Homo sapiens: one gene and its partner. The protein of the gene in region 1 interacts with the protein of each later gene in a pairwise test. Each region holds a gene or a part of one and is shown on either strand. Other genes may lie near its edges.

Evidence for each region.
Region 2: the proteins of NELFCD (region 1) and ZNF638 interact in a two-hybrid assay, tested with the Homo sapiens proteins (one large-scale study listed by BioGRID and IntAct).

The regions. Positions count from the first base shown.
Region 1 is NC_000020.11:58,983,954-58,987,777, forward strand, and holds part of NELFCD (negative elongation factor C/D), read left to right. Parts: intron 1-2,139; coding exon 2,140-2,255; intron 2,256-2,800; coding exon 2,801-2,910; intron 2,911-3,754; coding exon 3,755-3,824. UniProt on the Homo sapiens protein: Essential component of the NELF complex, a complex that negatively regulates the elongation of transcription by RNA polymerase II.
Region 2 is NC_000002.12:71,418,746-71,422,569, reverse strand, and holds part of ZNF638 (zinc finger protein 638), read right to left. Parts: intron 1-3,824.

The DNA of each region.
Region 1 (3,824 bases):
ACCAGACGTTCATTTCATGTTTATTCTGTGACTCTGCTTGGAAGAGGTACAGAAAGTTAGGAAAGGTGTTAGGAGGGTGGCAAGAACTGGATTTTAAAAGATAGTTGGTGACCCAAATTCTGTTCGCCTGATGCCATGTTACATAGTGGGAGGTAGGAAGATGTGTAAGGAGGCCACCGTGATGTTCAGTCTGGATGGTGGAAACTAAGAGCTGCAGACATGCAAATAGATGAGTCCTGCTACAGATTGCAAATGGGGAGTGGTGAGAGGTCAGAACGGACAGGGGAAGTGGGAAGGGCACGCTCTTGCTAGAGCTGGGGCGTTTTTTCCTGAAGGAGATGGGAATCTTTAAGCAGGAGAGAGACGTCAGTTTTGTGGCTTACAAAGATCACTGTGGCCACGGTGTGAAAGATGATTGAAAGGAAGGAATAAGACTGAGACTTCAGGGGAATGTTGCTACTGCAAGCATACAAAAAATAAGGAAGAGCAGAGGCAAATGTGGAAAGAAGGACCACCTTGGATAGACAGATGGGAGATGGAACTGATGAGTCTTTGTGACAGGATGTGGGGGTGGGGTGAGGGAGAGAAGCTGAGGATGATTTTCAGGTTTGGGGGGTAACAAGTAGATATATGAAGGATACCTTTACGGAAATATGGGTTGTAGGAAGAAGATCTGTTTCTAGGGAAGAGATGTCAGTTTTGGACCTAAAGAGTTTGGATACTTGTGAGACATCTGACTGGAAATGAGAATGGAATGTTGGATACCTGAGTCTGGAGCTTAAGAGAGGAAAGACGGAGAGAGAGATCCAGGCTAATTCTAGATTGGTGAGCAGGTAGATAGCATGACCCAAGAGGTGGTGGAAGAGGCAGGTAGGTGAGTGCCCAGGGTGGAAGCCCAAGAGAACAGACAACGTGGGAATGAAGCTCGGGGTGAAGTCCGGCCTCTGTCATGCCCTTAGGGGCTCAGCGTTCCCCATGCAAATCTGGTCTGAGAGAAGACTCCACAGCTTTTACTGGGAAGTCATCGGGTTCTGTCTGCTCCCAAAGCACTGCTTTTAGGATCTTAGTCCAGATCAGGAGTGAGCAAACTTTTCTGAAAAAGGCTAGATAGCAAATATTTTAGGTTGTGCCTGTCTCTGTCTTAACTACTTACCTCTGCCCTTACAGGGGGAAAGCAATCATAGACAGTCCTTAAAAGAATGGGTGTGCTGTGTTCCGTAAAAGTTTATTTGCAAAAATAGGAGAGGGCTGGATTCGGCTCTGGGTCATAGTTTGCTGACCCCTGGCCCAGCTCTTGCCCCATTATGTTAGAGTAGGTTGCATGGAGGTCTGTCTCTCCTATTAGTTTGTGAACTTCTTTGATGGAAAAAGCCTTGTCTTGTCTTACATTTTCTTAGGTTCCTTGGTTGATGAGCATAGTGCAGACTGAATGTTCAAAAAGCATCTGCTTGTTAGTTAGGGTGGCAGTGTTAAAGTTGGACAGGGTTTGGGATCACAGTCCATCCTCACATGGTCATTAGCAGGTGAAGAAGCCTGCTTTGCCCTTAGATGGAGTGACAGGCCTGAAGTTGCTTCCACATAGAATTGGGACTGGAGTCCAGCCAGAAGTGTGGATGCAAGGCGAGTTAGTGGTCTTTACTTTCTAATGGTAAGTGATGGCTCACGCTTTCAAGAATCAGGTTGTTACTCTTCAGTGGCATGTATGAAATAAGAATAGTGAAAACAATAATAATAATAGTTTACTATTTATTGCACTGTTACGAAATGTCAGGGATTATGCTGGGTTCTTCCAAAAATTAGCTCATGGAATCCTCACAACAGCCAAATGGGAATAGGCGTTATTATTATCTTCACTTAACAGAGGAGGAAATGGACACTCAGAGAGGTTGGGTAACTTGTGTGAGCATGGAACGCGGTTTGCCAGGGAGGAGTTGTACACACCCACTCAGTGTGATCCTGGATCCCATTTTCCTAGCCACTCACTATCTGTCCAGCCCATTTCATGAAATTGTCATGAAAGTCAAATGAAATAATGTGTGTAGAATACTTTCAAAATGGGCAGCATTATACGATTTAAGGTGAGATTAGGGTATTTGTATTAATGAAAAAAATATCCTGGCTCTTCGCATTTACCAACAGCAGGAGGATGATTCTGGAGAAGGAGAGGATGATGCGGAGGTTCAGCAAGAATGCCTGCATAAATTTTCCACCCGGGATTATATCATGGAACCCTCCATCTTCAACACTCTGAAGAGGTATGTGAGAAAGGTGTCTGTATTGGGAGGAGGCTGGGGGTAATTTAGAGAAAGTTTTGTAATACACCCAGAAGGTGCTATGTAAAGCAAGAGTAACGCGAACTGAACTAAAGGCTTCAAGGGGGGGTCCCCTCTGCCACTTTTTTTTTTTTTTTAAATTTTTTTAAGACAGAGTCTTGCTCTGTTGCAGTGGCACAATCACCGCTCACTGCAGCTTCAGCCTCCTGGAATCAAGCAGTTCTCCCACCTCAGCCTTGCAAGGTGGCCACCACAGGCGTCTGCCATCATGCCTGGCTATTTTTGTTTTTGTTTTTTGGGAGAGACAGGGCTCCTTACGTTGCCCTGGCTGCTCTTGAACTCCTAGGCTCAAGTGATTCTCCCACCTCTGCCTCCCAAAGTGCTGGGATTACAGGTGTGCACCACTGCACCCAGCCCCCTCCGCTGCTTTAAAAATTTTGAAACCTGATTCTCTTCCTCCTTCCTTACCTTCCTGTTGTCCATCATTCCATTCATTCGGGTGTAATTGCTGTTGTTACTTTCCCTAGGTATTTTCAGGCAGGAGGGTCTCCAGAGAATGTTATCCAGCTCTTATCTGAAAACTACACCGCTGTGGCCCAGACTGTGAACCTGCTGGCCGAGTGGCTCATTCAGACAGGTGCTTTGTGGGTGTCCCCTGTCCTGGCTAGTTACCCCCACTTTTTTAAAAATAGACTTTTGGGTCCTTATAACACTGATACAATGCCTTCTTTGATTTCCTGGTTTCTGAGACTTGTGTAAGAAAGAGCTGAACTTCTTACTCATTTTTATCTTTATCTTACTCATTTGTATCTGCTTGCCTCTTATCTTTGATTCAGTAATTGAGGTTTACTGGTAGCCTGCAAACGTGATTCTCATTGAGCTGTTTTCCCTACCATGTTGTAGAATTATAGGATTATACAGTGTGTGTTCAGTGTGTCATTTTCAAGACGTCTATTACAGCAAGCAGTAAATGACGGATAATTTAGGACTGGCTGTGATTATGGCTTTTAGTTAATATGATCAAAGTAGAGTCTTACTGTAAATCCACGGAGCCGGGTGCAGATGACATCACTGAAGTGCGTGCTGTCCGGAAGCTTGTGGACACACTGCTGTCCCGGTGATTAGATACAAGTGTGTCTCTTTTGGCTGCCATCTGCTCCCTCCTCACTGGGCAGGGATGTTTTTCCATCCCCCTACCTGTTGCTGGGGCCATTTGTCTTTATCCTCAGTGAGGCTCTGCAGATGGTGCTGTCCTTTCCATGAAGTTAGGGGTGGACCAGACTTGTGTGTTCTGTTCTGTGCTGCTTTTTGGTCTTATCATTGATAACTACTTTGAAGAGTTCCAAAACCTTACATGTATAAGTGGTCAGAAGCAATTCTTTGGTATTTGATTCACATAGAGACTTTTGACCATTTGCTTTCTAAAGCCACACAGTGAATGGACAGCTTGCCATTGTCTAGTTGCTTTTATTCTCTTTCAGGTGTTGAGCCAGTGCAGGTTCAGGAAACTGTGGAAAATCACTTGAAGAGTTTGCTGATCAAACATTTTGA
Region 2 (3,824 bases), on another chromosome or scaffold:
TACAGCCAATATTTTCCCTCCTCTGTCAAGTTAACCCCTGACATTGAAAGGTCAAATGTGAATCTGAGACACTTCAAATATTATCAGGTCCTATTCCCAACAGTGGTAACTGAAATAATAAAATATGTGTACAGTTCTACAATAAAACTAATGATCCATGCATTATGATTTAAAATTTTATAAGTGAACCTTACCTAAAAAGAACATAAACAGAAACTGGTGGGGGGAAAAGACCATACTCTAAATCATATCACCTTTTTATTTTTTTTTTGGATGTAAAATATTTTTTTAATTACCCAAGAACCATATTTATTAATGATAATACTTAGAACATTATTTGGAAAGTATTCTTTATATACTCTATTGAGGATTTAAAGCTAGTGACAAAACCTGATATAATCACCTTATGTGAACATACAGTCTTATAAATATTTGCCTTTGGCTATAAGAAGAAATGCATTAAAAAATAAACCTTCCCAATTCAAGAGAATAATGTATAATTCTAATATTTAACTTAAATGTGTAAGTAATATTCAGAAGAAATGGAGGAAATACATGGCTAAGTATATGTAATTCATCTTATTTCATCATGGTCTTCCCAAATCTAAAGTATATGAAAAGTGAGTAGTCCTATAATTCCAGTACTTTCACCGAGGTAGACACAGAATAAGTTATTTTTATATCAATATTCCACAAATCAGAGGTTTTCTTGAAGAACAAGGAAAACCTTAGCTTCCAAAAACAATGCCCAACATGCTATCAATGCAAATTAAAATTTACCAAATATATTCATATAATGAGAAGCAGCAGATTGGAGAAAGACACCAGAGAGTGATCCTATCATATCAATACCTGATTATTAAAAAGTACTGACTTTCTTCTCCTATTTTTTAAGGAAGGAGAGGATGAGCCATCCCTTTTGACCTGCTTCTTAGAGGGTGGCCATGTACCCTTCAGTTAACAACACAAGATGGTGTATATCTGTGTGCTGAGATGTTAACCATATTTAAGAAAGTTGTGCTACCACATCAGGGTCTTAAATCATTTGAACCAAACTGGTCTTCCCTCATGCCCCAAAGATTACATCCTGAGGAGAAAACTTTTCTACCAGATTAGAGAAATACCTCTTGACCCTAAACCTTAATCAATATATATTCTATCCATTGTGCAAGTTATTCTTTGCATGCTAAAATGTTTTTTTTTTAAAATAATCACACCCCTTTTTTTCAAAATATAAATGGCTAATTTTAAGAGTTTCAAATCTTTACAATTCACAATAAAATTTGTGGCAAAGCACAACCAGAAAAGAGCAGTGACATTCACAGTTACAGCAGGTATATGAATATTACTTCTCAAAACAAGCTTTTGTCTTTAAATTACAAGACTCATTTCCAATAATGAAGAAAATATTCAAATTCCTGCCTCATTACTGTACTGCATATTAACCCTACATAAAACTTTAGAAACTTAGGGCTAAGTAAAAACATCTATGGGGCTAGGATAACAATGGAGACCTTGATTCCTGGCTCAAGGATATAGCAAGACTTTCCCCTTCACAAGTTTTTCAATAAAAAAGTTATTATCTTATATACAAACTGAACCATTATGCAGTTCCATACTTGAAACAGAGAACACAGGTCTACTCAGAAGAATTATTTAATTCCATATTTGTCCTTGTGTGCTAGTCTTTTCAAATCATAGTGTTTTCTTTAGAGAAGTCATTTACCAAAACTAGTATCTGCTTTCTGGCTAATATGGGAAAAAAGCCTCAATATTGATCAAGTTAGTTTGAAAAGACAGTTTGAAATGTCAAATAAATGACATTAACACCAAAGTTAAACAACCACTCTTTGTAACGATCAAATGAAAACAGCCACATTCTGGGAAATGGAACAGAAAAGGATTCCAGAAAGGCATTTGAGATACAGATATCTCATTTGCCACTCCTCCCTCCAGCCCCAATATCCCAGTAATACCAGAATTTCACAGCCTTCAGAAAAAGCATACAATAAAAGCTGGGCATTAGAACAAACGTTAACACTGAAAGACAAACATTCTGAGAAACCTTAAACTGGGACTTCACAATACTAAAGATTAGTGTTTATTTCAGAGGCCAACTGTTTACTTCCTAATGTTAATGAATTAGAAAAATTTCACTTAGCATTCTTATTTGTGGCTTTAATCAGATGATAAATAAAATCTGTTTACATATCAACAGAATGAGTACAGTGTGAATTATTAAATTATGAATGTATCCACGAGTTTCCTCTAAACAGTATTTAAATAGTTTAGTTATAAACAAAAGTATCATATTCATAATGAATTGGCAACCACAAGTGCTTTAAAACAAAACAAAACAAGTGCATGTAGTACCAGCTACACAGGAAGCTGAGGTGGGAAAACAGCTTGTGCCCAGGAGTTCAAGGCCAGCCTGAGCAACATAGCAAGACCCTGTCTCTAAAAAAAAACACAACAAAAACAACAAATAGTATTTTCTCAGCATCAGTTCACTCCAAAACAAATGTTTAGTATTCTGGACATATCCCACATCTTTTTCTCTAATGTTAAAAAAAAAAAAAAAAAAAAAAAAAAAAAGGCGGGGGGGGGTGGGAATTAAGAAGTTTTTGGTGCTAATTTTAAAAATTAGTTTTATGAGGTTGAATACATCTATAAATTATTTAAGAAATATATTCAATTTTAAAAGCTATGTCTAAACAATGAGAGGAGAACAATGACCAACTGCTATTGCTATGGAGAACAACTTTTCATGCAGACCTCAAAAAATCTTTGTAAAATGAAATAAAATGGGTTTTGCCACAGAGTTAACGTGGCCAATCTTTAGGTCTATATATATAGTACTACATAGGCACTGTTATTTATTAAGCCCTTTGTGAGCTTTCACATCACACACTGCTGGTGGTACTATTTCTTAGGTATGTGAATGCACCTGGTATGACATACAACTTAAATAACCCTGTGCTGACACACAGAGCAAACCTATTGCTTAATGTTACTGGTATATTTTAATGTACTCATCATCTTTGTCAACTAAAATAATCTGATTTTATAAAAATTACTGAGAAGAAAAATCCGCTAAGACGTTCTGTTTTTCAGGGATCTTAACATCAGTGCATCAGATAAAATAAACACTTTACATATTTAAACACTTTCAAACTGCTGTTTCAAACAAATATACGCTCTTACAACAAGGACTAATAAATATTGATGACTCAGTATACAGGAGGAAAAAGAAATATTCTAAATCAGTGATTTACAATGAAGAGCAGTGAAAGGCAAGTCATCAACTGGTGGAACAAGGGTGGTGATAAGGAGGATATCCATCAGAATGAGAAAGTTATTAAGGAGAGGGTGTACTTTACGTGGTCAAAACAAGGCTGTAAGTCACCAGTTTGTGGAGACTTTGAAAAACAAGCTTTCATTCCTCTGATAATGCAAAACTATATACATAATTTTTTTGGACAAATACTTACTCGCCCCAACCCAGTTGTTTTTAAAAAGTATCAAAACACACAATGAAATTAAGTAACGTTAAAAGGTTAAAATTTTACTACCGTGTTTATTTTGGAATAGGAAAATCTAACAAAAACAATGTAATTACTGTTCGTGATGTTGAGTTATTCGAGAGTCTTAAAACATTTTATAAAGTGGTTTATTTAATTCAAACTGTTTATATACGCAGTTACTCTAAATATTCAGTAAATACTTAAATGAGAGTAAATAAAAAGCAACAAACGAAACTCCTAGGTCAGGCTGAGTCCAAAAAGAAAACTGTAACAAGCCCATATGTACACAAAATAAATATG